4 linked regions of the Homo sapiens genome follow. The protein of the gene in region 1 purifies or fractionates together with the protein of each later gene. This does not show direct contact. Each region holds a gene or a part of one and is shown in the gene's direction. Other genes may lie near its edges.

What was found.
Region 2: the proteins of PCDHAC1 (region 1) and DNAJC18 purify together in Homo sapiens (affinity purification with mass spectrometry; 2 studies listed by BioGRID and IntAct, with this or other methods). This does not show direct contact.
Region 3: the proteins of PCDHAC1 (region 1) and LTAP1 purify together in Homo sapiens (affinity purification with mass spectrometry; 2 studies listed by BioGRID and IntAct, with this or other methods). This does not show direct contact.
Region 4: the proteins of PCDHAC1 (region 1) and ATF6 purify together in Homo sapiens (affinity purification with mass spectrometry; 2 studies listed by BioGRID and IntAct, with this or other methods). This does not show direct contact.

The regions. Positions count from the first base shown.
Region 1 is NC_000005.10:140,978,293-140,985,316, forward strand, and holds part of PCDHAC1 (protocadherin alpha-C1 isoform 1 precursor), read left to right. Parts: intron 1-656; coding exon 657-715; intron 716-4,182; coding exon 4,183-4,271; intron 4,272-7,024. Other genes in the region: PCDHA1 (protocadherin alpha-1 isoform 1 precursor), read left to right, coding at 657-715, 4,183-4,271; PCDHA2 (protocadherin alpha-2 isoform 1 precursor), read left to right, coding at 657-715, 4,183-4,271; PCDHA3 (protocadherin alpha-3 isoform 1 precursor), read left to right, coding at 657-715, 4,183-4,271; PCDHA4 (protocadherin alpha-4 isoform 1 precursor), read left to right, coding at 657-715, 4,183-4,271; PCDHA5 (protocadherin alpha-5 isoform 1 precursor), read left to right, coding at 657-715, 4,183-4,271; PCDHA6 (protocadherin alpha-6 isoform 1 precursor), read left to right, coding at 657-715, 4,183-4,271; PCDHA7 (protocadherin alpha-7 isoform 1 precursor), read left to right, coding at 657-715, 4,183-4,271; PCDHA8 (protocadherin alpha-8 isoform 1 precursor), read left to right, coding at 657-715, 4,183-4,271; PCDHA9 (protocadherin alpha-9 isoform 1 precursor), read left to right, coding at 657-715, 4,183-4,271; PCDHA10 (protocadherin alpha-10 isoform 1 precursor), read left to right, coding at 657-715, 4,183-4,271; and 4 more. UniProt on the Homo sapiens protein: Potential calcium-dependent cell-adhesion protein. May be involved in the establishment and maintenance of specific neuronal connections in the brain.
Region 2 is NC_000005.10:139,415,502-139,422,525, reverse strand, and holds part of DNAJC18 (dnaJ homolog subfamily C member 18), read left to right. Parts: intron 1-2,300; coding exon 2,301-2,473; intron 2,474-3,933; exon of another isoform or gene 3,934-4,524; intron 4,525-4,809; exon of another isoform or gene 4,810-4,931; intron 4,932-7,024.
Region 3 is NC_000001.11:154,217,579-154,224,932, reverse strand, and holds the start of LTAP1 (protein C1orf43), read left to right. Parts: upstream 1-4,342; 5' UTR 4,343-4,525; coding exon 4,526-4,591; intron 4,592-4,688; exon of another isoform or gene 4,689-4,761; intron 4,762-4,995; coding exon 4,996-5,097; intron 5,098-7,354. UniProt on the Homo sapiens protein: General regulator of phagocytosis. Required to uptake Gram negative bacterium by macrophages.
Region 4 is NC_000001.11:161,761,982-161,769,336, forward strand, and holds the start of ATF6 (cyclic AMP-dependent transcription factor ATF-6 alpha), read left to right. Parts: upstream 1-4,338; 5' UTR 4,339-4,379; coding exon 4,380-4,461; intron 4,462-4,467; exon of another isoform or gene 4,468-4,825; intron 4,826-7,046; exon of another isoform or gene 7,047-7,355.

The DNA.
Region 1 (7,024 bases):
AAAGCACTCAGGAAGGAGCAGGAACAAGTACAAGTTTATGAAAAGGATTAGCTAGCAAAACAAGGTCAAACTCTGCAATAGTTTGTTTTCCTCTCCCTAGTATCCCTCTTCAATCAGAAAAGAGACTGTTATCAGTTGCTGGTGTTATGACTGGGCACATCCGCCCTGGGTCAAATATGCTGCAGTCTGCAAAGCCAGCAGCAGATTGCAGTCCTCTGCAGTCCAGCCAGGCCAGCAGAACTTGTGTAGCCATGTGCCCTGTTATAGCTGTAATACTGAATTGGGAATGTTCCCTTAATGGGGCACTTGAGGGCAAAAGCAGTGAAAGCTTTTCCTTTCTCAAAGCAGACTGTTCTTCCCGTAGTGTTTTAAGAACACAGACATGTATTGGGCAAGGCAAAGCCAAAGGTGGCCTTTACAAGATTATTAAATCTGGTCTTCCAGGGTATCTAATCTGTGTGAGGACCCTGATGAACTAATTTTCTTCTAAAGTGCTATATATGTAGATATCATCATAGAGTTACACATGAAATGGCTCATTCAATACTTTTTTAGATGCCTGGAAATATTTAAGGGAGTAACTAATCAATTAGCAGCATTCCTGGGAGAACATTGTCTTGTCATTTTAACAGAAAACTCTCTTTGTGATTTTGCAGCCACGACAGCCCAACCCTGACTGGCGTTACTCTGCCTCCCTGAGAGCAGGCATGCACAGGTATGTATTTCCCTCCTCATTCACTCAGAAGTAACCTTAACTTGGTATGGCTCAGATAAACTGCATCTCCATAGGCCAGAAGCAGCTGTCAAAACTAAAAAGCTTTAGGTACTTTGCCAGGAAAATGCAATTATTTTGTCCCCATGTTTATTCCTTGAAAGATCGCAAATGGTCAGTGCCAGATGCTTATCAAGTGCTGGCATATAAGAGTCCTCTGTAAAATCACAGAAACAGGCTGCTATGTATTTTCTCCCATCAAAATTTCTACAGGGAAGTAATTTCAACCTCCTTCATCCCTCTCTACCTATGCTTTCTTTTCCTCCTTTAAAAACTGTAATTAATACTCATGCTTTGAGACTTGGGTACATTGTGCAATGTATACATACATGTTGTCTACCTTGTTTTTTTTTTAATCTCACATTGGCTATTACATCCTATTACCCTCAATAATTGATTGCTATTGTTGTTTGTGTTCACACCTATTAGAGCCTCCTCATCTTTCCCATCTGTTGCTATCTTATTGTCATCAATGACATGGTTCTTCAGAAGATGAGCCATGTAAAGGGCTCCAAATCTAGCTTACTTTAAATTAACCTAGAGTAACGGTATTAGTCTAAGACTCAGATTAAATATAATTTTGCTTTCTCTACTTTGTCTCTCTGACAGTAATTGATTAACTACCATTATTTCTGGAGGTGATCCAGTATCCATGCCATGGGGCCAAATAAAAGATTCATTATTTGCGAATGTCTTTGGAAACCAAATGGGAAGGACCAAGAAACAAATGATCACAACTATCAAAAGGATTTAATTTTAAAGAAGAAATAATCTTCAAACTTAAGCCCCTCAAAATATCTGGGCAACTATCAAGTGAATATTCACCAAACTTAGATCAGTTCGTAAAGAGAAAGCCTACAAAGTATGTGTAGAGTTAATGTGAAATTAGTTTTAGCCCATTAAAATGCATTAGATTGAAATAAATTAACATACTCTCAAGCATTACAAATGAGCAGAAATCATTACATTGGGTGCTATTTCTGATTCAGAAGCAATCAGTGAAGGGCTGAAGATTAGTAGTTGGCTTGGTAAGATGTCACATTGGAACCTGGGTCATAATTTTAGGCCAGAAACATTCATGCATATACCAGAATATTAGGTATCAGAAGAAATTCTTTATATTTATTAGAGACCAACTTGTGCTTTTGCCTGCATCTGAGCTGTTGGTGGAGACATGCAATGGGTAAAAGCATGGTTTACAGTACCAACTCTTGAAAAGTACCAAAGCTATGAGTTGTGCCTTAAAAACTACATTTGAAATAAAACATTAAAACATAACTTCCTGGACTGGGCGCGGTGGCTCACACCTGTAATCCCAGCACTTTGGGAGGCCGAGGTGGGCAGATCATGAGGTCAAGAGATCGAGACCATCCTGGACAACACGGTGAAACCCTGTCTCTACTAAAAATACAAAAATTAGCTGGGCGTGATGGCATGTGCCTGTAGTTCCAGCTACTAGGGAGGCTGAGGCAGGAGAATCGCTTGAACCCGGGAGGCGGAAGTTGCAGTGAGCCAAGATCGAGCCACTGCACTCCAGCCTGGCGACAGTGCGAGACTCTGTCTCAGAAGAATAAATAAATGAATAAAATAACATAACTTCCTTATCCCATTTTCAAATTGAAAAAAAAAAGCCAAATGTGCTCCTATTCGGGTTTCAATTAAGATATTATGAGATTTGAGTAGGGTAAGAAATAAAATAAAAATTGAAATTAAAATGCCATTTCTTTTTTGCATTGTAATACATTGAACATATTAAATGAGTTGTGAACCTAAATAATACTAATCTTTTTCGTATGTGTGCTTGGGTGTTCTCGGTCTTTCCAGTCTTGGACATCATGTAACTATTCTTTAAAAAATTCTGCTTTGAGCTGAGCTGGCTCCAGGATAGTTACACCTTCATGAATCTGACTGAGCCCACACAATTTGCTAGTAGGATCCAGGAACACTTGAAGGCTGTTAATATTTGGGGAAAAAAAACAGATAATTCTAGAGTGTAGACAAGGGGAAGAATAGTAAAAGGTCAGAGTTTAATGAGTGAATTTCTACTGGATATGTTGTTTGAAGTCAAAGAGTGAGAAAACATTGAACTTATATGTTGCCTTCCCTCTAATAGTTCAAGTTTGCCTGCTCTGTTGCCTCATATAACCCCTTTAGTCAGTAGTCTAAATTTTATTTTAGAAATTTAACTTTCAAGATAAGCAAATGTCTAGTTTAAAAGGGTCCTCTAGTCTAGGTGTAGTGGCTCATGCCTGTAATCCCAGCACTTTGGGAGGGTGAGGCAGGTGGATCACTTGAGGTCAGGAGTTCAAGACCAGCCTGGTCAATATGGTGAAAACCTGTCTCTACTAAAAATACAAAAATGAGCCAGGCATGGTGGCGGGTGCCTGTAGTCCCAGCTACTTGGGAGGCTGAGGCAGGAGAATTGCTTGAACCTGGGAGGCAGAGGTTGCAGTGAGCTGAGATCGTGCCACTGTACTCCAGCCTGAGTGACAGAGTGAGGCTTTGTCTCAAAAATAAATAAAATAAAACAAAATGTTCCTCTAATTTTGATGAGGGTTTTCTTGGACATTTTCTCTTAGGATCCCACTTATTTCTTCCTTCCTTTCTTCCTTCCTCCCTTCCATCATTCATTCATTCATTCATTCATTCATCCAACAAATATTTGAGAGATTAATATGAGTTAGTATTAGACATACATAAATGAATACTGCACCATGTTCTCTTTTCCCTTGAACAGTTTATGTTCTATCTCTGCTTGCCTCTAAAGGTCTCCCAGTTTGTATCTCACTCCCAGCAATGTTTTATGCTGAATTAATCTCTTCTGAGCGGGGATCTGTGAGTGGTGGTGATCAAGTTTCTCTAGTCTCAGGAAATATAGGGTGGGTCATCTATGCATAAAAGATATAGAAAGAGTAAAATAGAAAATAAGGTTAAGAATTAATTAGATAGCCAAATTGGAACAATACTCCAATTATCAGAAAATATTTTAGTGTGTTTTCTTCTTTAGAGTAGAGAACCTAGGAACAAGAGAACCTGCAAGAGAGGCTTGGAACTTTTGAGAACAAGCCCTCCTCATCTGCTTCAGTATCGAGATGTTAAAATGGCTTAGTCCTCTGATGGGCTTCCTGTTAGATTTAGTGAGCGCCACATGGCGTTAATAAAAAACAGAATTGCCATAAAGATAGAACATGTGTGTTCCTGGAATAGTATAGCAGGCAATAAGTAAGTCAGCAATGCTTCTGCAGTTTATGCAGGGTGACTGCTCAGCAGTAATTGCTTCAGTTCAAGCATGAGCAGAATGTGTTAGCTGCAGCCCTGGCTTCATAGTTGTAAGCAATTTCTGAGGGTGGAAGAAGAGATGGGAAAGAATTTATGATCTAACCGTTATCTGGGTCTGTGTGTTTATTCAGCTCTGTGCACCTAGAGGAGGCTGGCATTCTACGGGCTGGTCCAGGAGGGCCTGATCAGCAGTGGCCAACAGTATCCAGTGCAACACCAGGTAAAGAGCTGGGGTCTCTCCATTCTTTCTTGGTTTCTGGAAAGTGATCAGATGACCTACTTTTGTAAGATCAGGAATGTTGATGGCTCTTTTTCTTTTATATTTTTGTTATTCCCTTTTTTCCATACATACATGATTTCCTTACATATATGATTATTTTGATTTTATACCTAATGCTCTTCAGGAGTTGAAAAAGGATAACAAGGAAAGTGTGTGTGCACGCATGTGTGCATGTGTGTGTGTGTGTATGAAGTTTTTGGGGTTTGTTTGTTTGTTTAAATCAGGTACCTTTCAAATGCTTAGGTCATCCAAGCCATGCAGAGAAGATCTGGTGGCCTTATGCACAGAGATGACACTGTTAACAAAGATCTTTTGGTTGAAGACTATGGAAACCCACCCAAAGTAGTAAGGAAAGAAAGAGAAAAAGAAGGAAAGAAAGAAAAAGGAAGGAAGGAAGGAAGATGGTTTCTCATGGAAGTGGAAAATTATCGGAACCAAGGCATTGTTTTGAGTTCAAGTCAAAGTCAATCTGCTTCTCTCTGCACATCAACAACATTCTGCAGACTGACTTTTAGTGCCTTGGCATGCATGTTGCCAAACATGACCGCCTCACAATTTCTTAGTTTAGAGGGATAATAGGGACTATTTCCTAATCCAAACTTTCAGGAAAGAGAACCTGCTAAGTTGTGTAAAAAACCTAATGGCTGGGTGAGTATAGGAAAATTGCTTAAACTCACATTTGCTTGGTATCCTTATTCTTGCCCTATCACTAAAGCAGGGTCATGTAATAGAAATATGGCTTTGGAGGCCCATCGCTGTGGCAGTTTTCAGAAAGGGAAGATTAAGTGTTGGTAGAGACCACAAATTGTGTCTACTCTAATCCTCTATTAATAGAACATCATGATGATAATAGTAGTTACTAATTATTAAGCCATAATATGCCTAGACACTGTGCCAAGTACATTGTATGTGTGGTCTCATTTATTCCTTAAGTCAAGCTTGCAAGGGATTTATTACATCTATTCTACATATGAGAAACTGGAGAGGCAGAGAGATTAAGAAATGTACCCAAGTTCACGTAGCTTGTAAGTGGCAGAGGGTAGGATTCAAACCCAGATGTGTTTAGTTTCAAATCCAAGTATATCTAGCACTTATATTCATAACATGGCTGGCTTGCAATAATCCATTCAAATTCAAATACATATCTACATACATAACAGATGACAGAATGTGTGTGTAAAAGGTTTTTTCCCAAAAATAATCAGATGCCTTTCAAATTATTAAGTAACATGCAGCTAAGGGCCCATTTTTACTGGCAACTTTAAGGGCATTCGTTGATTCTAATCAGCCAGGATTTGCTATTTATGGATGTTGCACAATTCAACTAAAAGTCACATTTGTCCAAAAAATATACGAGTTGAAGCAATTCATTAGAGAGCTAATATTGCCAGATTGCAAGGGGAAAAACATAAAATAGTTCATTGACAAATCTGTACCCTCAGTGCCAACGATGGAGTGAAGAAATGATGGAGGAGGAAGTGGTTTTAGACTGCCAAGTGTTGCAGGATGTGGAGGCATCTGGGAAGGTGAGAACTTCCCAAAGAAGCCACGTGAAATCATGACTTTCTACCTTGCCTTTATTTCAGAGTTTTTCTTGCTCTTATGGAGGCATTGTAGGTCGACCTGGTAAGCCACAAACTAACTTTGAATACATTCTCCCTCCCATTGGTGATGCTGGTTGGTGTGTATTCCTAGGCAAATGTGGAATAGGAACCATGTATTGATATTTCATACATCTGGCCAAGTCCCTCTTTCAGATTCAAAAAATGTTGAGAACCTATCTTTTTTACAGAGATAGAGAAGGGGATCTCCCTTGTTCCCTTTCTTACTGTCCCAGCCCCTCTTGTATAACCCATTTTATCCAGAACTGTGCCTGGCTGCTGATGCATGAGTCACAGTCTTCATGGACTGTGCTGGATAGAGCTTACATCTTCCAACTACTCCATGGCAACCTAATCATACTTTTCAATACATACCTCTGCATCAGTGGTGTAAAGTTAAAGGGATTCTCTGCCTTCTCCCTGTCCTTCTGGTACTTTTAGGTTTTTAGGACTCAATATATGTTCTGCACTGCTTGGAGGGAATATGGCATAAAGATTAAGATTATGATTTAGAGTCAGATTTGAGTTGAATTCTAATCCCAAGCTTACTTGCTGGGTGAGCATAGACAAACTGCCTGAATTCATATTTTCTTAATTACCCTTTCTGTAAATTGGGTGTAGTAATAATAATAACACCTATTTTATTGAGTTACCATGAGAACTAAAGGAGAAAAAAAGAACTGAGCATAGTGCTTGACATATAGTTAATAAATGTCTAATCTTTTTTTTTTGAGACAGAGTCTCGCTCTGTCCCCCAGGCTGGAGTCCAGTGGCACGATATCGGCTCACAGCAACCTCTGCCTCCTGGGTTCAAGTGATTCTCCTGCCTCAGCCTCCTGAGTAGCTGAGACTACAGGCGTGTGCCACCAAGCCTGGCTAATTTTTTGTGTTTTTAGTAAAGACGGGGTTTCACCGTGTTAGCCAGGATTGTCTCAATCTCCTGACCTCGTAATCCGCCTGCCTCGGTCTCCCAAAGTGTTGGGATTACAGGCGTGAGCCACCGCGCCTGGCCTAATCTTCTTACTCTTTTTTCTTTCTGGACTACTTTTCTGCAATCTATGATATAGTGTTGGCTGATAGCCTGGTGGCCAG
Region 2 (7,024 bases), 1.6 Mb from region 1:
TGTGCCTCGGGAAATAGATTGTCTTGTTCTATAGTGACATCATCTGGTCAGCTGCAGAACAGCAGTAACTGGTTTTTGAAGGATCAGTAGAATTTAAGGTTTAGATGAACTCATTATCACACCATGGTAGAGTTAGAAAGACTCTGTTAAGCTGTTGATAGGATTGCTGGACCCTGTGGGTCTCGGAGCATAGTATTAATAATGGGGATCAAGTGATTATTTTCAATTTTTTTGTTTTTGTTGAAAATAGAGAAATTCCTTGTAATGCTTTTTGCGTATAGATTATAAACTCTGATAGGATTTTTAAAAATTTCTTCAATTAATTCTTTCAGTTGATTCAGTTCCCAAAGTTTGGTCCCCAGACCAGCCATCGTCAGCATCAACAGGCAACATGTTAGAAAGGCAGATTCTAGGGCCCCTCCATATCCATTGAATTAGAGGCTCTGGGGGTAGGACCAGAAGTCTGAGTTTTAAAAAACCCTCTAGATTATTCTGGTCCACACTGAAGTTTGAGAATCACTAGATTATCTTTTTTGTTAATAATGAATAATAAATTATTATTCATTATTATAATTTAGTGGGAAAAAAACCTTTTAAAAGTAGAATTTATTAGACAATATATAACAGGAAGAGTCTTTGTCAGTGATCACTGTAGACAAGACCATCATTCCAGGTCAATCCAGGTCAGTATTTCCTTTTTTGTTTGTTTTTGTTTTTTGAGACAGAGTCTCACTCTGTCGCCTGGGCTGGAGTGCAGTGGTGCAATCTGGGCTCACTTCAACCTCCACATCCCTGGTTCAAGGAATTCATGTGCCTCAGCCTCCTGAGTAGCTGGAATTACAGGCGGCACGCACCACCACACCCGGATAATTTTTATATTTTAGTAGAGACAGGGTTTCACTATGTTGGCCAGGCTGGTCTCAAACTCCTAACCTCAGGTGATCTGCCCACCTTGGCCTCCCAAAGTGCTGGGATTACAGGCATGAGCCATCGCGCCCGGCTAGTATTTTCCTTTTACAGAGAGCGAAGCTGAGGCTGAAAGAGAGGTTTCTTTTTATTGTTTTTGTTTTCGAAGCAGTCTTGCTCTGTCACCCAGGCTCCCAGGCTGAAGTGCAGTGGTGCAATCTTGGCTCACTGTAATCCCCTTCTCCCAGGTTCAAGCGATTCTCATGCCTCAGCCTCCTGAGTAGCTGGGATTATAAGCATGTGCCACCACACCTGGCTAATTTTTGTATTTTTTAGTAGAGACTGGGTTTCACCATGTTGGCTGGGCTGGTCTCGAACGCCTGACCTCCACCTTTCTTGGCCTCCCAAAGTGCTGGGATTACCGTCATGAGCCACTGCACCTAGCCTTCATAGAGAGGTTTTTGCCATCAGGCCACACTGGCCTGATTCCCTCTGTTTCCCAGCTTCTCATGTTTTTCCATATGGCACTTTAGCTTTCTTTCTTGTGAGGCCAGCGGGGTAAGCACGGACCTGCTCTGTAAGCTCCCCCAAAACCTTAGAGTGAGGGGAGAGCAGTCATGGCTTCAGCTCTTACTCTAATTAGAGAGGATCAAAGGAGAGGGCCGGAAAAAGGCCAAATAAAATATAGCCCCTTTAATGTAGAATTTGTCCAGTTTGAAGAAAACCATTTCTGTCACATTGTTTTAACTTGAGTTTGAGGTCCCTTCTATGTTTCCTTATGGTTAGAATTAGTCAGCTCAGTACTCTTATTAATGTTGCTAAGCACCAGATACCTTTGGATGTCTTGGACCCACAGAGAGTTAGCTCTAAAGCATCATTGAAATCTTTTGTCTGAGTTTCTTGCAGTTCTCAGTTAGCAGCTATGTGCGAAGTACTTTTTATCATGTCCAAAATATTGCTTCTAGGTTGGTGTGAGCTATCTGTTTTTTTTGTAAATAATTTGCTATATAACATAATCAGTTCATTCAACCAGCATTTATAATAGCCTACTCTGTCAGGTACCATACTAGATCCTACACAACGTAAAAATTGTTTGTTTTAAGCATTCAGCATTCTACTTTTAGCACAGAGAGCAGTATAAGAGAGGTGAGTCCTTTAAGAGAATAAACTATGCTGAAGCTGAATTCATAGTATGAACTTGCTTACATAATACAATTATGATGATGTTATACTTACAACTTTGCTAGGGAAATAAGAAGTGTTGGGTATATTAGAAAATGATATCTGCCTCTGCTCTATGAGCAGATGATGATGATGATATCTGTGAGGGCAGTGCTAAGAGTAATATTGCCAAATATTATGAGCTCACATGAGCCTCTCTCTCCTTGTTTCAGGACCTTGGGCTACACCATTTCTAGAGAAACTCAGAACCTGCAGGTGCCTTACTTTGTGGATAAAAACTTTGACAAGGCCTACAGAGGAGCTTCTCTGCATGACTTGGAGAAAACAATAGAGAAGGATTACATTGATTATATCCAGACTAGTTGTTGGAAGGAGAAACAACAAAGTAAGATACTGTAAAAGGGGCATTAGCTGGTGGCTGTGGTTCCCAGCAGGAGGCACCCCCAGCCTCCTGATCCCTCCTCTCTTCTTGTTTGAGGCTACGCATGTTTATGTGAACAGAGTCAGAGGACAAAGGCCATTCAGGATACTATAAAAAAGTAGGGGAAATTTATTGACAGGATACATGTGGCCAGGACTTGGAAATCTTAGGAATTTAGGCGGCACTAGTCACCTGTCTGTATGTCTGTCTCTCTTTGAGTCTCTACCTCTCTCTGCCAATCTGCCCCCTCTCCTCTCCCCACCAGCTGCCTTCCTTTCTTTCTTCCAGCTTCCCTTTTGCATAACCTTGTTTGCCATGGTTTACAGTGGTTGCCACCCTGCTTATCACTCTCTCAAATTCCCCAGTCTCACCAGTCAGTGCCCCTTTCTGCAGCACACACGTCTGTAAGTTCTTGGTGCTCGCTGATTTGGTCCACAGTTTCCCAATTCCACACTCCCTAGAGGGAAATCTGATCGAGCCAGCCTAACTTTTTGAAACAGAACAAAGGTTTAGAGGTTTCTGGTATGGAATGAGGTGTCCCCTACCCTCACCTCCAGCTGGTTGTGGCCACACAGAACAAAAGCGACCCCTTGGGTCTGCCCCTTTGGGTGTGGCAGGCCTTCCCCCCTATTTCCCTCTCTGGAGACAGTGGGGATGATAGCATCTGCCACTGGCTTACAGCTCCAGCAAGTGTTACTAGGAGTGTCTGCAGCAGGGGTAGCCCCGTCTCAGCCAACAGCTTCACCTTTGGTCCCACTTGAATTCTACACACACATACCGCGTTAGTGACTGTGTCTTCTAAAACTTGGTTTTGATTATTTTTATTTTCTTTTTTATTTTTCAGGAGGTACCCTTTTAACTGAAGTTTTGGCTCATGTTTAAAAAGCAAATTCTGACTCATTTCTAAAGCCTTATTACTGAGTATCATTAAATACCTAATGGAGTCTGATAAAATTAGCTCTTCAGTCACAGTGCTGCTAAGCCCTCATTGACCATCACACACTCCCAACCCCGCCCTCAAGTTAAGCTCTCCTTCCTCTGTGTTCTTAAAGCACTTTGTTCAGCCTGCTAACATAGTACCAATCACACAGTGTTAGAGTTCCAGGGATATATGTCAGTCTCCCCTGCAAGACTATGGACTGTCTGGGAATAAGAACTTGGTCTTACTAATTTTGTGTCCCAGGGTTCTGGCACAGTCCTTGCTTCAGAACAAGTGCTCAACAAATGTCTTTTGAAGAGAGGATTCTCAGGAGTAGAAAACAATGAAAATGCTGAGGATTGTGAATAACAACAGCAGGGTTAGTGTCCTAGCTCACCCTTAGGGACCTGGTCTCTGCCCCCTATTTCTGTACGGCAAAGTCCTAATGTTCTCTCAAGGTGCATTAGGAAGTTGGTGAGCAATGACTCTGGGATATAAGAGGAAATTAAACAGGAAGAGGAAATTCCAATTTATTGAAAAACACTGAGGATTCAGGAAATACTCTACCCCATTGCTAAACTAGATTTTACAAGAATCAAAAATCAGGAAAGAATTTTAGAGCAGGATAAAGGCCTCATATTAAAAGGCAGTATATAGGCCAGGCATGGTAGCTCATGCCTATAGTCCTAGCACTTTGGGAGGCCGAGGCAGGAGGATCACTTGAGTCCAGGAGTTTGAGACCAGCCTGGGAACCCCATCTCTAGAAAAAGTATAAAAATAAGCCAGGTGTGGCAGCACATGCCTGTGGTTTCAGCTACTCAGGAGGTCGAGCCTGGGAGATCAAGGCTGCAGTGAGCTGTGATCACTCCACTGCACTCCAGCCTGGGCCACAGAGCGAGATCCTGTCTCAATAAAAAGGCAGTATATACATGGATCCAAATCAGGTGAAAGCCAGTGTATGTCCTGAAAATCCCCATTGTCTGGGTCCTGGGAGGGCTTTGACTTTGTTGCTTTCTGCAAGAACTGGATGAAAATCTGCATTTCACATTCTTCAAACACCCGCCTGCCCCACATCTTCCTCTGTGGCAGTAAGATGCTGGAATTATACAAAGAGCTCATGGTAAGGATTGCACCAGAGGTAGTTTCTCAGCTTTTGTCCCCATCCCCATGAGGCCTAGTTCAGAGCTTCGGCACTCTCCAGGTATAAATAAAAATCCAGTGAGTGGCCAGGTGTGGTGGCTCATGCCTGTAATCCCAGCACTTTGGGAGGCCAAGGAGGATGGATCACCTGAGGTCCGGAGTTCGAGACCAACCTGGCCAACATGGCGAAACCCCTTCTCTACTAAAAATACAAAAATTAGCTGGGTGTGGTGGTGCGCACCTGTAATTCCAGCTACTTGGGAGGCTGAGGCAGGAGAATCTCTTGAACCCGGGAGGCGGAGGTTGCAGTCTGCTGAGATCGTGCCACTGCACTTCAGCCTGGGTGACAGAGCGAGACTCCATCTAAAAAAAAAAAAAAAAAAAAAAAATCCAGTGAGTAAGCATGATGCGTGTACCCACAAGTTCCAAATGGCAGTTATCAGCACAAACCCCTTAAAAATCTATTTCTGGCATTTAAGTACAGCGGCTATGCAGAGCCTCCACACAACCCAAGTGCCATTTGAGAACAAGCAGCATCTGCCCTCCGAATCCAGCAGCAAGTGCAGCCAACAAGGTTAAATTTAGCACTTGGAGGTTGTAAAAATAAACCCACTTGAGAACAAAGTTCACTCTTGGCAAAATACCAAATGCAAACTGTTTTTAGCAAGGTTAGCCATTGACTTTTTAAATCTTTGTTTGGTTCATTTATTTTTCTCTGCTCTTCCTTAGAATGTTTAATCTGGGTGAAAATTTTTTTTTTTTTTTTTTTTGACAGAGTCTCGCTCTCTCGCTCAGGCTGGAGTGCAGTCATGCAATCTCGGCGCACTGCAACCTCCACCTCCCAGGTTCAAGCGATTCTCCTGCCTCAGCCTCCTGAGTAGTTGGGACTATAGGTGCATGCCACCGTGCCTGGCTAATTTTTGTAGTTTTTAGTAGAGACGGGGTTTCAAGGATGTTGGTCAGGCTGGTCTCGAACTCCTGACCTCAGGTAATCCGCCCACCTCGGCCTCCGAAGTGCTGGGATTACAGGCGTGAGCCACCACACCCGGCCAATCTGGGCAAACCTTTATGAGTAATCCCTTACTATAAACACTAATTGTCCTGTTTACTTCTTCGCAGCTGCATCTAGATAGTAAGCCTGATGCCAGGGCAAGTGGCCACACCACTAGGCTGGGCTGGACGAAGGTAGCAGGCAGGAACTGCCTCTTGGCCTAGCTGAGCTGAGCTGAGCTCCTGGCCCAGACTGGTAGAGGAGCACTTCTTTCCACACCCTTGAGCAGGATAACCTAGTGGGTAGAAGCTTAGGCTTTGAAATGGGGATAGAATCCACTTCCTCCTAGAGAGGTTGTGTGGGTTATGGAAGATGGTATGGGTGTAACTCTTAGCACAGTGTCTGGCACATAGAAAGTGCCTAATTTCTGGTGGAGTCCTGGCTTTACCTGGCTTTGCACTGTAGACTGGATGTAGCACCATCTCATGGGGCTGGATCATGAGGGCAGTTGGGATCTGTTGCGGTCTTTCAGCTGTTGAGACCAATCTGGGCTCTTTTGCAGAGAACCTTAGGAGAGGTTCTGGGTCTTGCTTCTCTTGGCAATTTGCCTGAGTCAGTTTATCTTTAAGGCTCAATGCTCTGTCCATCTGTTACAGTGGCATTCAGAGGAAGGGGAACTTTCTGCTAAGAAGAAAAGGTATTCTCTGGAACCTGCCACTCCCCAAAATTTTTTTTAATTACTTAGAATTTATTGAATATTAACAGAATTTGTCAAAAGTAGCATATTCTTCAAGTTGACCCTTTGTTCATTGAAGGATGAAAGGATTCACTGGCAGTTTGGAGAGAAGTTGCTTTAAGCTTGGTAGTGGGGATGTGGGACATGATTCCTTGAAACACTGACCTTGTACAAGGTCATTGCTCTGGAGCAGGGGTCTCTGAGCTGGTTTCAGTGAACTTTATGAAAAGCAATGTGATATTTTGAGAAAAGCAGTTATCTTTCATCAGCTTGTTGAAGTGGCCTTCAATGTAGAAAATATAAAGAGTCACTAGCCCTTAATGTTTCCTGGAACAAGATTTCAGGGAATGAAGCATTTAGAAAAGCTGAGCAAATGGAAAACCTGAGGAAATCATTTCAAAGAAAAGCAAAACCACAGAATCTGTTTCAATACTGGTGTAACTGTGACTCCAGAGGACTAAAGGCATAGACTGACTTCACAGAGGCCTCCTGGGCAAGGTTACCCACATGCCAAAGTAGCCTGAGATTGGAGTTAGTGCCGAGCCCTGGGCAGGATGCAGGAGCAGAGAGCTTTCATTTGGATATGGCCCATGATCCTCCATGACGCCCCATCACCTGCAAGGGTGACTGTGCCAAGGCAAGCCCTGGCTAGCAGGCGCTGCAGGCACCCTCACCAAGCAGGGAGAGCGCATTGTTCTGGAGCCTGGGAGACCCACTGCTTGCCAAGCA
Region 3 (7,354 bases), on another chromosome or scaffold:
ATTCCTTAAGGAGCTATGGCTGTTAATCCATTTTTATGTAACAAGAAATGTATAAAGCATGTGTAAGTGATGGATTTTTTTAAGAAGTTACAGCAGTTTGGTTACTAGTCCCCCATAAGCAGACTTTACATTTAACTAATAATCAAAAGCCTTTTACATAGATGCAAGTATCTGAAGTACCTTTGACAGAAGGAAAGATAATCAGTAAAGTCTGGAAACAAAAACCTTCCAGGAAGGAGATTAGTCTACACTCCAGAGAAATAATTTTAAATACTGTATTCAATCACCTAAGAAAACAGCCTTACCTGCCTTACAACCTTTTTTATGTAAGCTGCATGTGACCTCCATTGCTTGGGAAAGGACAAGTTCAAGTCTAGACTCTTCTTTGTCCCTCAAGTTTCATCTCTCTCAGTATGCTATGGGTTTGTTTTGTGTTTGTGGGGGTTTTTTGTTTTTTTAAACCACAGCCTTCAACAGGGTACGTATTAGCCCCAATGACTTTGTCCAGAATCTCTGTTCTCTGGAAAATAATTCCAACACACTGCTTTTACAGGTGCTTCTCTTGGTCTCCTAGTCCACATTTTCAAGAAACCAAAATGGCAATTACCCTCCACCACTCACCTTAATATACAGGGAATCTCAAATTTGTCTCAAACCAAAAGCATCTAGCACAAAGTTTTATTTGGAAGAAAGTGCTTCTAAGAAATCATTTTAAACTTGAGACCTTAATGCTGGCAAGATGACTTAGTTGAGTCTTTAAAGAGACACAGAACACACAGGGCCTTCCCCAAACCAGAATATAGTTTTTGTTACAAGACTTCTAACAAGGAAGGATTCTACTGAATTCAAGTTCCTTTAGTTCATACTTTGTTTTATAATACAATCTCAGCTGCTGCATTTAGTAAAAAAGAAAACATTAATCATATGATAGAGTGTTCAAAATAATAGGTTACTCTGCATTTATTCCCTTCCAAAGAGGGTAAGTTTATACTTTTCTGCTCTATATTTAATTTTTCTTGTTAATGAAACCTTATACAACGTAATTCTAGACTGCCCAGAGATATTACTGGATTTGAGTGGGAGGAAGGACTTCTAAAGAAATATGCAAGGATTAACTATTAGGGAAGTGAATTTCATCTGACTTTCTTGGATGTCACAGAGAAAGCTGACTTTTTCTGTGCATAAATTCTTCACCAAGTTGCGTCAATAGGTTGCATAGGTCTTTGTATCAAGAAAGATTTTTTTAAGGTAGCTTCTCAGGTAATTTTTAACCCATTACCTCTTCCCCCTACACATATTGGCACACAAAAGCCCATAAGTATTTCAAGCTAGAAAGGATTATTTGCTACACAGTAGCCCATTTTCCCAGGTTAGCATTATAGTCGTTTCAACTTTACAAAAAAAAAAAATGTTTAACCAAGTACCCCGAATCCAAATCAACAAGACTACATATACACATATATACGTATATATATAAAGACGAGAGGAAAACTATTTTGTTTTAAAATTGGCTCTAAGATGAAGTTTCTAATATGGCATAGTCATTTCCAACCCACTACTGTAACTTACAAATATTGACTGTTTTCTACTCCACATGTGATATCTATTTGTGAGGATAAGTTATATTGCAGGTATAAACTGCATGACTAGCTATACACTATTGCATATACTGTACCAGTCAGATGTAAACATATTAAAAAGTCATCTTGAAAGATATAATTAACCAAGAAAGAAAAAAATTCTCCTAATCACTCTTGCTAGTAACATTTCCCTCTTACAAGTGCTTCGAAATGTGACTAAGAAAATTTTTACCACCTAGTAGTGACAACACTGAGCAACAGGTCAAAAGTAAGTGATCTGGAATGGATCACTTGAGGGCACAGAATTAGTAGCAAGCAGACCCATTCCCAGCTATCACACTGGAGATGAAGAATCTTGTTACTTACTTGCTCTTTCTTAGAAAATAAAAAGATTTAAAGGAAGTAGGGTGAGAAGTATTGGAGACCAAGGAAATCGTGCGAGAGTAAACAGAGGTTTCAACACAGGAGTGCCCTTGACTCTTTTTTGAAAACTAGCTACTTAAAAAAATAGCCAGAGAAATTTCACTGAAAAAACTAAATAACAAATATTTATTGAGAATCTACTATGTGTCCAATACTTCAGGAAAATACAAAAGCAGTATGACTTAGTAGCTGCCCTCAGGGAGCTTACAATCTAATTTAAGAAACAATTCAGAAACTGAAGCTAGACTGAGTTGGGTAAAATTTGCTACCTCTAACAGAACAACTAATTTCTGTAGATGCTTTGTTGAAATGGCCCCTGCATCCCCTTCCCCACCACCTTGATATCTAGTTAGTAAGAGTACTTCCCAGTTAGGACATAGCAAGGAGGAGCTTTAAAGATGAAAAACAAAACAGGACATTTTTAGGCCTTTCATCACTAGTTTATGTGCCAGCAATATTTCCCATTCACAAAGGAAACAATCATTGAGATAGTCTAATCTTTAAGGACAATGGTGTCAGATCTCAAAGCAGTTTTATCAACTGATACACAGCCAAAATGTTTTAATTCTCTGTAATCATTGGGATAGTCTAATCTTTAAGTACAATGGAGACAGATCTCAAAGCAGTTTTATCAACTGATACACAGCCAAAATGTTTTAATTCTCTAGAAACGCTGGTTACTAGTAATGTCCATCACCTCCCAGCAAGTCACATCAGGTATCCCCAAAACAGGATATGCGGCGGAGGAAGGTAGGATGGGAGAGAAGACAAAAAAAAAGGATTTCTCCATTTAATAATCAGGGAGAGTCAAAGGCAAAAACGTTAACAATAATAACAAAAACGCCTGTTACTGTGGTGTTTTTCTTTCCACAACATCCTACACCAGAGGTGGCTACATTTCAAGAATGGTGGAAAAGGAGCAGTCTCCAGTTTGTGACATCAGTTTGCAAAGCAATTTAAGGGCTGTCCACAAGGTTAAGGGTTTGAAGAAACTGGGCATTCCTGTACCATTATGAGAAGAGTGAACAAATACCCCAGTGCTCTAGTGACGTCCCTTAAGCGTAAATACACCCTATGGGGGCCTCCATGTCCAGCTTCCCAAATAACACAATTGTTTGGGGTACCCAAACTACAGTATAAACAGGAAGCTAAAGACAGCAGCAAAAACATATTCCAAGAACTGGGTTGGTGAGAAAGAAGGGAGGGTAATAAGAGGAGCTGACAAAGAGCCTGGAAACGGAGAGGGGACGCAAGCCCACGGGTGGAGGATGGGAGGCTCACCCCCCTCAGCGCCACATCGAGAGCCCACGGGGCCAATCTCCTCCCTACCTCCCAGCCGGAACAAATTAATCCTTCGCACACCAAACTGAGGGCCACATGGGGGAGTTTGGGGGAGCTCCACCCCATCGCCCTCCCTCCCCCACGCCACCCCCAAACCAGGCCGGATCCGGATCAGAGGAGGCCCGCAGTGGGTGGAAAGGGAGGAGGCCCTCTCCTCCGCAGGCACCGGCCGGGGTGAAGAGAGAGCCCTACCTCAGGCAAGGCCCAGGCCTCGCTCGCTCGCGCTCTTTCTCGCTCTCCCCTCTCAGGCTCTAGCCGCATGGCCCCCCCTTCCTACGGCTGCTCCAAGCCCCGCCCCGGCCACGCTCCCAAATCGAGGCCCCGGCTCTGGCGCGGCCCACTAGGCCGCGAACCCAACCATAAACAAAACCTCCGGGGGCCGACTCGAGGTGGGGGGCGCCAGGGCTCGCATGACTCGGGGGGGGGTGTACAGTGGGGGAACACACGGTGTGGGGGGGCCTACCGAGGGAGGGGATACGGCGGGGGCAGGGGAGAAAAGAGGGAGGGTAAAAGGGGGATCGCGGATTTAAAGGGGCCGCGGACAATACCCGGCCCCGCCGCGCTGCCGCTGCCGCCGCCGCCGCCGCCAACGCCGCTGCGCTCCCAACTTTACCTCAGTCTCCTCCACACTGACACCCCGGGCCGCGCCGCCCCTGTCACGTGATATAAGATTCCCTCTTCCCCACCCCCTCCCTCCTTTTCCCTCTCGCGCTCGCTCTCGCGCCTTCCCCCGCCCACTTGCCTTCCTGCGTCCCTCAGCGCGTGACGCTAAAAGGGGCGCGCACGCAAGCGTGCGCGTGCCGCCTCGCCACGAGACACCTCTTTCCGGCTCCGCGAGTCCACCCCGCCTCCTTCACGGCGGCCCTGCCTCCACCACGTGACGCACGGATGGCCGCCGCTTCCTCTTACTGTCGTAGTTCCGCGTCTGAGCGCTCGACGCTCCTGGGTGCCATTGCCTGCCTGAGTCACGTGTCAGGGGGAAGCTGGAAGGCGTCGTTCTCCTTTCCCAGCTCTCCTGCCTGTCCGCCATGTTTTCAGGCCGGGTCTGGCTTGGTCTTCCCCCGTAAGGAAATGGCCGGGGAGCTCCAGGGGACCCAGGCGCCGTCGCTTCGGCGGAGCCTGGGCTGACCAGCCAGGACAGCGGGGTAAACCCGAACAATTCTGCGCGAGGTAGGGAGGCCATGGCGTCCGGCAGTAACTGGCTCTCCGGGGTGAATGTCGTGCTGGTGATGGCCTACGGGAGCCTGGTGAGGAGATTACCCCACCCCATTCCTGCTGTCGCATCTTACCCAGTAGAGACCCTCCTTTTGAGCTGTACCCCGTCTGCATTCTCCACCCACTCACCTGCGCCTATCCGGGCTTTGACTCCTTATTCCAGGAGTAGGTGGGAGTTTAAGTCACTTAGTCGGGCCGACCCGCCCTCGTTAGTCTAGAACCCTCCCTTTAACGCTAGAGCACAGACCCCACGCCTCCCTGCTGCTGGCTTCTTAGATCCACCCCCATCATAACGGCCTTGCTTTGCCCCAAGTTTTACCCTGAAACATTCCTGAGAGCCGGAATCTGGGGATTTGGAATGAAGGCATGCTTTTTTAAAAAAAAAACAAAACAAAACTGACTTTTTATTAAAGGATTTTTACATCTTTTTGGACAGGTGTTTGTACTGCTATTTATTTTTGTGAAGAGGCAAATCATGCGCTTTGCAATGAAATCTCGAAGGGGACCTCATGTCCCTGTGGGACACAATGCCCCCAAGGTAGGTCCTTAGGGCACAAGTTAAACATACTTCTCCAGATCTTTTAGGGTCAAGAATGAGATTTCCTCTGCCTTTAGTGATGACTTTAATTCTCATGTTTCTTTGCGTGCACTTGTCCTTGTACTTACTAAGTTGAGCAGGCACTGTGCGCTTTGGAACTTGGCTTACCTGCTCAGTGCTGTGGCAAGCATGTGGCTCATCCTGGAACTTCTGTTTTTGTATCTGCAGAATGAAGGGCTTGGGTCGAAGTTCCCAACTGTTTGTAGTAAAATATTTCCCAGCTCATCTTAAACTACCCAGTGTTTTTTGTTTGATTAGGATGGGGTTGAGATCATTAAGGTTAACCCAAGAGCAATGAGAAGGGTTACCTTTACATAATTTTAGACTTAAGAGGAGCTCCATAAATCATCTAATTCCACCATTCATGTTACCAAGAAGCCCAAGAAAAGGAGGCAGTTTACCAGAAGACGTATAGGAAGTGAATAACCCAGTGGTCTTTTATCTTTGTCTGTACTTTCTCCTTAGGTGACTGTCTTCCTTTCCTTGGCTTTAGCTACAGATGAAATTTTATCTCTATCCTAGAACTCTTTCCTGAGTTCCTTACATATATTGCCAACTGATTACCTGACATTTCCACTTAGATTTGTAGTAGACATCTCAAACCCAACATTTGTGAATCAGAATTATTGCTATCCCACTGCCACTCTCATTCTGCTTCTTTAGTCTTTCGCTTCTAAGTAAAAGACACCTGCTTCCCTTACCAACCCCCTTTTGTGTGGCTCTCCCCAGATCACTGGGACCCAGCTCCACTGGCTGAATTTTCCACCCTTTTTGCTCCTGTGATCTGGAATGGTCTTCAATTGGCTAGCTCATTCATTCTTTTGATCTTAGCTTAAATGTTACTTCCAAAAAAGGAATGCTTATTACCTATTTTAAAGTAGGTTCCCCCTCTCTTTATTTTCACATGGTACCCTGATTTTTCCTTCATAGCATTTACCATAATTTTTATGTTTGTCCATTTGTTTAAAACATGCCTCTCTCTTCCGCTAGACCGTAAGCTTCAAGAATGCAGGCACCATGCCAGTTTTGTTCACGACTATAAAGCCAGGACCTACACATAGTAGGTACTCAGTAATTTCTTGTTGAATGAAAAACAGGTTAGTGCCAGGGCCTACACATAGCAGGTACTCTGTAATTTGTTGCTGAATGAAAAACAGGTTAGTTGTAGAGCTAGAGCTCATGACTCCCTCAACTCCTAGAGCACTGTACTTTCATTAACAAGTGCTATTAACCTTCCCCTCTTTGTTCTTTGCTGACATAGTACATGAAAAGGCTCTAGGAGGATGTCCTGGCTTGAAACCTTAACAGTCCTGCCTGCCTCATGAGAAAGACATAGGGTTAGTTTCTAGCACATCATGAACCAATCAATACTTTGGCTATTCAGGGGTCCCTTGGTCTAGTTCAGAGCAATATTCCTTTTGCTTAAAAATTTTTTCTAAATTCTCAACCATTGCTAGTGAAAGTATAAATTAGTAAAACCACTTTGGAAAATAACTGGTCATTGTCTGGTAAGATTGCACATGTACCTAATCCATGGTCCAACAGTTTCTCTCCTACCATAGAGAAATTAAGTTTTGCTCATGTGTACCAAGAAACATGTGCAAGATTATTTATAGGGGCATTGTTCATAATATTTGAAGAAGAAACTTAATTCAAATGTCCACTTTTCAATTATTATATAGGCTGAGTGCAGTGGCTCATACCTGTAGTCCTAGCACTTTGGGAGGCTGAGGCCAGAAGATCATGTGAGCCCAGGAGTTACAGACTGCAGTGAGCTATGATTGCACTGATGCACTCCAGCATGGGCAAGAGCAAGACCTTGTTTCTAAAAAATAGGTAGTGGTATATTCATATTCTGGAATAGTGTAAAAAATGAAAAACTGAAGATAAATATATGAAGACAAGTCCTCAAAATACTTCTGAATGAAAAAAATTGCAAACATGAATCTCAAAAACATGCTGAGTGGGCCGGGCATGGTAGCTCATGCCGGTAATCCCAGCACTTAGGGAGGCCGAGTTGGGCAGATAACACTTGAGGTCAGGAGTTCGAGACCAGACCAGCCAACATGGTGAAACCCAATCTCTACTAAAAATACAAGAAAAAAATCCTAACTACTCGGGACGCTGAGGTAGGAGAATCCCTTGAACCCAGGTGGCAGAGGTTGTAGTAAGCTGAGATCAAACCACTGCACTCCAG
Region 4 (7,355 bases), on another chromosome or scaffold:
TGAACACCTGGGTTCAAGCAATCCTCCTGCCTCAGCCTCTCAAGAAGCTGGGATTACAGGTGTGTACCACTGTTCCTGGCACAGACAAAATACTAGAATAACAGAATTCAACAAGGTTTTTGGTACAAGATTGCTGTACAAAAATCCACAGTGTTGCTATACCCCAATAATAGCCAAATAGAAAAAAAAAGATGTGAAAAACAAAACTATAAAACTATGAAAATGAAAATGAAAATCTTAGTGACCTCAGGAGAGGGAAGGATTTCTTAAGAAAGCTACAAGTCAGCTATCATAACAACAGATTGATAAATTTGACTACATTGAAATTAAAATCTAGAGAACAAATCACCGTAAACAAAGACGACAAGTGTCAACCTGGGAGAAGGTATTTATAACATATACCAAGCGTTAACTTAAAAAAGCCCAACAATGGGCTGGGTGCGGTGGCTCATGCCTGTAATCCCAGCACTTTGGGAGGCTGAGGCAGAAGGATAGCTTGAGCCTAGGAGTTTGAGACCAGCCCGGGCAACAAAGCGAGACTCTGTCTCTCTCTCTCTTTTAAAAATGTATATATTAAAAAGCCCCACAATGAATAAATTTAGAAAAGAAGGGGAGACTTTATGGCCTGCAAGGTGGCCATCCTGCAGGCTGGGAAGCGTGCCTCCAGAAACAGGCGCTTTGAAGGAGGAGGGCTTGGAGTGTAGTTCAGGCTGAACAGGTTGGCTAAACCTACATTTTCACCAGGTTACAGGAAGAGCTATGAATATTCATGAAAGTGGTCCTGACACATGCGTATTGAACAAAAACTCATGTAACATATGACCCATATTCACTTTGGGATGGAGACTTAACTTTTTTGTTGTTGTTGTTCAGACGGAGTCTTGCTCTGTCACCCAGGCTGGACTGCAACGATGTGATCTCAGCTCACTGTAACCTCCACTTCCCGGTTTCAAGCGATACTCCTGCCTCAGCCTCCTGAGTAGCTGGGATTACAGGAACCTGCCCCCACGCCTGGCTAATTTTCGTATTTTTAGTAGAGATGGGGTTTCCCCATGTTGGCCAGGCTGGTCTCAAGCTCCTGACCTCGTGATCTTCCCACCTGGGCCTCCCAAAGTGCTGGGATTACAGGCGTGAGCCACCACACCCAGCCAAGACTTAACATTTAAATGTATTACGAGCCCTATACGTCAAAAGGTCTTTCAGGACATGAAGCCATGCAAATGTGCGACCTCTGTAGACCAGCCAGAACCAGTCCATGGCCAGTGGTCTTCTTACCTGGAGAAAGTTACTGAAATCAACAAAAAGTTGTCCAATGAAAGCTGTAGCTATGGCTGGTGGAACGGGGACTGGGGGTCAGTAAGTCAGCATCTCGTGGAGCTGCACATTATTTTAATATTGTTTATCTTTAGGCCAGTACTTGTTTAGCTGCTAGAGAAGAATCTTGTGGCAGTTAGAACACAGTTTATTCTTTAAGTATAGGGGTGTGGGACTAAAACCTTGCCTGGAATGGCTTTAGGTCTTTTTTATAATTTGGCATCTTATTGCCAGAGTCTGTTCTGTCAGTCTTATCATCTCTGTTTTAACATTAATGCTGGCCAGTTGTTGTGTTAAACTACAAAAGGGAGGGAGTATAACAAGGTGTGTCTAACCTGTCCCATCGTGGTCTAGAACTCAGTTTTAAGGTTTTCTAGGATCCCCTTGGCCACAAGGGGGCCTATTCTGTTGGTGGCGGACTTAGGAGTTTAGTTTTACTTTATACAGGTGAATGAATAGAGCAGGCTATCTAATGACGTACACATCATTTGTGAAAGAAAACTCCATAGCAAACTTTATAAAAGGTAAGAGTGGACAGTTCACAGAAGAGGAAATAAGGTTTCATAAGTATGGAAGAATGCACCACTTTGTTAGGGAAATGTAAATTGCAATTTTCACAGCGGTAAAAATGGTAAGAGTCTGACCATATCTTGTGTTGGAGAGAATGTGGAACAAAGAGAACTCATCAATGCTAGTGAGGGTGTAAACTGATAAAATAGTACATACATTATTTAAGACATTCTTGAGGCTGGGTGCGGTGGCTCACGCCTGTAATCTCAACAGTTTGGGAGGCAGAGGCGGGCGGACTGCTTGAATTCAGAAGTTTTGAGACCAGCCTGGGCAACATGGTGAAATCCTGTCTCTACAAAAAATACAAAAATTAGTCGGGTGTGGTGGTGGGTTCCCGTAGTCTCAGCTATTGTGGGGAGAGGCATGAGGATCGCTTAAACCTGGGAGGTCAAGCTGCAGTGAGCTGAGATGGCTCCACTGCAATCCAGCCTAGGGGACAAAGTGAGCCCCTGTCTCAAAAAAAAAAAAAAAAAAAAAAAGAGGGAGAGAGAGAGAGAAATTGAGATTCATTCAAGGAAATACCATGGGTAGATCCTTAATATCCAATAAGAAAAATGATTTGGAGAACATTAAAGTTTACATACATTAAAAAAACCCAAATGACACTAAATGCATGTGTCTATAAACATGTTTAAGCACCGTAAAACTAAAAATAAAAGTGGACTAGAATTACACTTTTATTTTTATAAAATAAAATTTTATACCCATAAAATTCATGGTAGAAGTGGCCTACGCCAAGGGAGGAAAATGAAGCAGGGAGGAAAGAGGAATTCAATTCTGTAGTATTTAATTTCTTATGAAAAATCTGGGACAAAAATGAAAAATGTTAAATTTTTAAATTCTTGGTGATAGGTCACAAATGTTTGTTTCATAATTACTTGCACTTTTTGAATAAAAATAAAATCTTTTGGAAATTAAAAAAATTGGCGATTTGTCATGGTGATTTTCTTAAAAGACTAAGGTGTCTAGTGGGATACAGAAGACTCGATGATTTTATTTTATTTTAGGTTTTTTTTTTTTTTTTTTTTTTGAGACGCAGTCTCGCAATGTCGACCAGGCTGGTGTGCAGTGGTGCGATCTCCGCTCGCTGCAACCTCTGCCTCCCGCGTTCATGCGATTCTCCTGCCTCAGCCTCCCGAGTAGCTGGGATTACAGCTACTTGCCCGCCACCACGCCTGGCTAACTTTTTGTATTTTTAGTGGAGACAGGGTTTCACTATGTTGGCCAGGCTGGTCTCGAACTCCTGACCTCGTGATCCGCCCGCCTCGGCCTCCCAAAGTGCTGGGATTACAGGCGTGAGCCACCGCGCCCGGCCTTATTTTAGTTTTTTATGTCAATTTTTGAATTTGTAATTGGGTGAGAATTAAAGTGTTATAAATTTCACCTTAAGTGAAAATTTATTAGTTTTCTAATGACAAAAGTAGTTACATCTGACGTAAGGGGATTTAATTATCTTTTTCTGGGCTTGCGTCCCGGAACGCTGCTGCATTATGTAATCTGTAGTAATATACCCACGAGCAGTTTGGAGGGTTCTGGGAAGCACATTTGTTTTGCTTACCTACCATGGGAAAGATTCCACGTGGTCCTAGAAGCATACGTATTCGTCGGTTACAGTATTTTAAATATTCACTGGCCGCTGAAATTTAAAATGGATGAAAAAGAAATTCTCTTAAGTAGCGTTCTTGAAACTGCTTTATCAAACTCAGTTCATATTTTCAGTTGGAGTTCGTGATGTATGTGATTTTCCTTTAAATAAAACCCGAATCTTTAGTAATACAAATATTGGGAACTTCGATTACTGTAGGTCTTAGGGTAGACTCGCTTGGACTTTGACTAAATACTATGCTTTAGAAATTTATCTTTAGGAGATAAATTTGGGGGGTTTATCTTTTTATATTTGCTTTGTTTCAATTTATTTAAATAAAAGTAGTCTTTCTAGAAGTATGTTTTATAGTACCACTTACCTCGGTTACTGTCCCAGTTAAGCAGTTTTCACGAATGTGGAAAAATAGTAGTGTTTTTCTTTCATACACGCGTATATGAAAAATTTTTACATTGATAGAGAATTATTCGTAAAAATTAAAGTAAATTTACTGTTAGTCTCTAATTTTGTTCTGAGATAGCCACGCTGTGGCATTAAGAAGGATAATCAAGGAATAAGCCATAATGTTCAGAAAGGGGCTTTACTTTTTATTTTTAATATTATTGATAAACTTTGTTTAGTCGAATTGATGTCTGCGTGTCTTCCCCCGCCTTCCCCATAAAACAGCGGGACAGAAAGTCCTGAAAACTCCAAAAGGGAAATATTTACTCAGAGGTCTATTCAAATTTGCTTAGTCTCTGACGTTTTCCTGTGTCGTACAAATCCCTCGTGCGGCAAAAGTAGTTTGTCTTTACTAGGCCACCGTCTCGTCAGCGTTACGGAGTATTTTGTCCGCCTGCCGCCGCCGTCCCAGATATTAATCACGGAGTTCCAGGGAGAAGGAACTTGTGAAATGGGGGAGCCGGCTGGGGTTGCCGGCACCATGGAGTCACCTTTTAGCCCGGGACTCTTTCACAGGCTGGATGAAGATTGGGGTGAGTGGGATCTGAGAATGTACCAGGGTGGCTCGGGTTCGCGTCTAAAGGTTTCTTCCTCCCTACTTCCGCCCACTCGTGGTGACAGGTGTGGACCAACCCTGCCTGGGGAGTGAGGCCCCTCGTCACTCCTGTTCGTGCCCCTGGAAGAGTCTGGGAGTATCGTTCGGCTTCTGTCCTGGCCACAGGGAGAGTAGAATATTGTCTAACTGGAGTTAACTGTCGTTTTTCACTATTCCCACTGGGGAAGTACCGGGTGATCTTTTTGTGTGGCTAACACTGGACGTCTTTAGGAGGTTTAGAGCAAAATGGCTGGGACCGCCAAAAAGGCTACAAGCTATTTCCTGAGTGTGAAATGTGGGCGGTGAGCACAATGGAGTGGGTTTTTGTGTGTTTGGTGTATATGAGAGAATGTGGTTATATACAAGAAATTCTAATCTTACAGCTTTTACTATTGGTTTAAGCCTGATGTCCGTCTTGGCAGAAAAGCAAAACACCCAAGCACCTGACCTCGGGTCCCTGCTTAGCTACACCTAATACTTATGGTGTAATCCTGACTGCTCTCCAGATACAGCTCTTAATTTTCTTGTTAATGGATATTTTGTTTGGTTTTGGTGGTCAGGAAGGGTGGAATGGGATGAAGTGGAAATGAGAATGAAGAAACTTTGTTATCTAAGTATTTAGAGGAGACTTTTATTCTCCTCTTGATTGCAAGATATAATAGTAATATTGTTCTTAGGTTCCAATATGAATTTGGGATTGTGTAGGTTCCCAAATGGGCCCGCTAGTGAGCCTACACCACTCATCAGCCTTGGAACTGGGGGGAACCCAGTTTATCTTTCTCCCTTGGATCAGCATTCTCAATAGCAGGAGTGGAAGGAATCTCAACTTTTTATTGAACAAAGTCATTTAATTGTTTCAAGGACAGATGTTCTCTAAAACTATATTCTATTGGAGATTTATTTTAATCCTTGGGTAGATTTTTTAAGAGTTGCTGGAAAACTTAAGATTTTTTATTCCCATTTTCCCAAGCCAAATGCATTAGTGACAGTAACCATTTATTTAGCTCTTTGTGTCAGGGACCCTGTTAAACTCTTGACATGAAGTATTTTGTTTAATCCTACCAACAGTCCAATGAGGTACTGTTTATTTTAGAGATGAGGAAACTGAGGCTAACAGAATTTGTGCTCAGATTCTTAGAGCTAGTTAGTGGCAGAAGAAGGATCAGACCAGGTTTTTCTACCTCCAAAGTCTGTACCCCTAGCATCTATTCTATAATGCTTTCCTAACTCATGTCTACAGATTTTATTCTTCCTAAGATCCCTGGTTATTAATAAGACTACTTGAATATATTGGGTAGTTATGATTTATTTTGTCAGCTAGTCAGCTATTATATTTTCATGACATTTCTTTTCTTTACCTCTTTTTTTGAGATGGAGTTTCGCTTTTGTTGCCCAGGCTAGAGTGTAATGGCGCAATCTTGGCTCACCGCAACCTCCGCCACTCGGGTTTGAGCGATTCTCCTGCCTCAGCCTCCCGAGTAGCTGGGATTACAGGCATGCACCACCACGCCCGGCTAATTTTGTATTTTTAGTAGAGACGAGGTTTCTCCATGTTGGTTAGGCTGGTCTGGAGCTCTGGACCTCAGGTGATCCGCCCACCTCGGCCTCCCAAAGTGCTGGGATTACGGGTGTGAGCCACTGTGCCCGGCCAGTGACATTTCTTAAAGTATAACTGTGGGACACTTCCTGGTAGCATAATTTTATGTCGTCTTCTGATACCCAGGCTGCATTTTCCAGACTTATCTGATCACTTGACTTAATGTTCTCTAACAGAGCATTCAGTTCTTTGTAGTCAGTTCACCGACTCACTTCTATCGGGTATCCTGCCCTGTCCCTCCCTGAATGTGCCCATTTCCATTGTTTTCCAGGTTTCCCTTTTCAAACTGTTAACAGTCTTCTCTTCTTTGAAGACTTTAATTTAATTCCTTAGGTGTTCAGTAAGTAGGATAGATTTTGTTGGCAATAGAGTGAAACACTACTGTCTGATAGTGTTTCGTTCTGTGACAGTTGCTGTTTTGGATGTTCAAGTACTTCACTGATTTACTTGATTTTGTTGTTGTTGTTGTTGTTTCTTTTAGAGACAGGGTCTTGCTCTGTCGCCCAGGCTGGAGTGCGGTGATGCAATCATAGTTCACTGTGACCTGGAACTCCTGGGCTCAAGTGATCCTTCCATCTGAGCCTCCTGAGTCGCTAGGACTACAGGTGCACACCGCTACCATGCCTGGTTAATTTTTAATTTTTGAATTTTTTGTAGAGACAGGGGTCTTGCTGTGTTGCCCAGACTGGTCTCCAACTGGCCTCAGTCATCCTGCCTCAACCTCCCAGGTGATGGGATTACAGGCTCAAGCCACTGTGTCTAGCCTTGATTTTTTTTTAATATTAGACACTATCTAGTTAAAATTTAAAAATCAGATTATGTAATTAGTATGTCCTGTGATTTTAACAACTCTAAATAATTTAAATAAAGTGATTAACTCAGAACAGCCTGTGAGGGATGTGCTTTCCTTTTTCTTTTTAACTTAGGTAATGAAATTTAGAGCAAGAGTCTTCAAACATTTTCTGTAAAGGTTCAGATAGTAAATATTTTAGGCTTTGTGATTACATGGTCACTGTTGCAACTACTCAAGTCTGCTGTGATAGTGCAGGAGCAGCCAGAGACAGCATAAACAAGTGAGCATGGCTGTGTTTCTATAAAGCTTTATAGACACTGAAATTTGAATTTCACATAATTATTTTAAATAATAAGCCTACTTTTTTAGTATAATTATAGATTTACACAATAATTGAGCAGATAGTACAAAGAGTCCACATACTTCCCCTTCATCCCCAGCT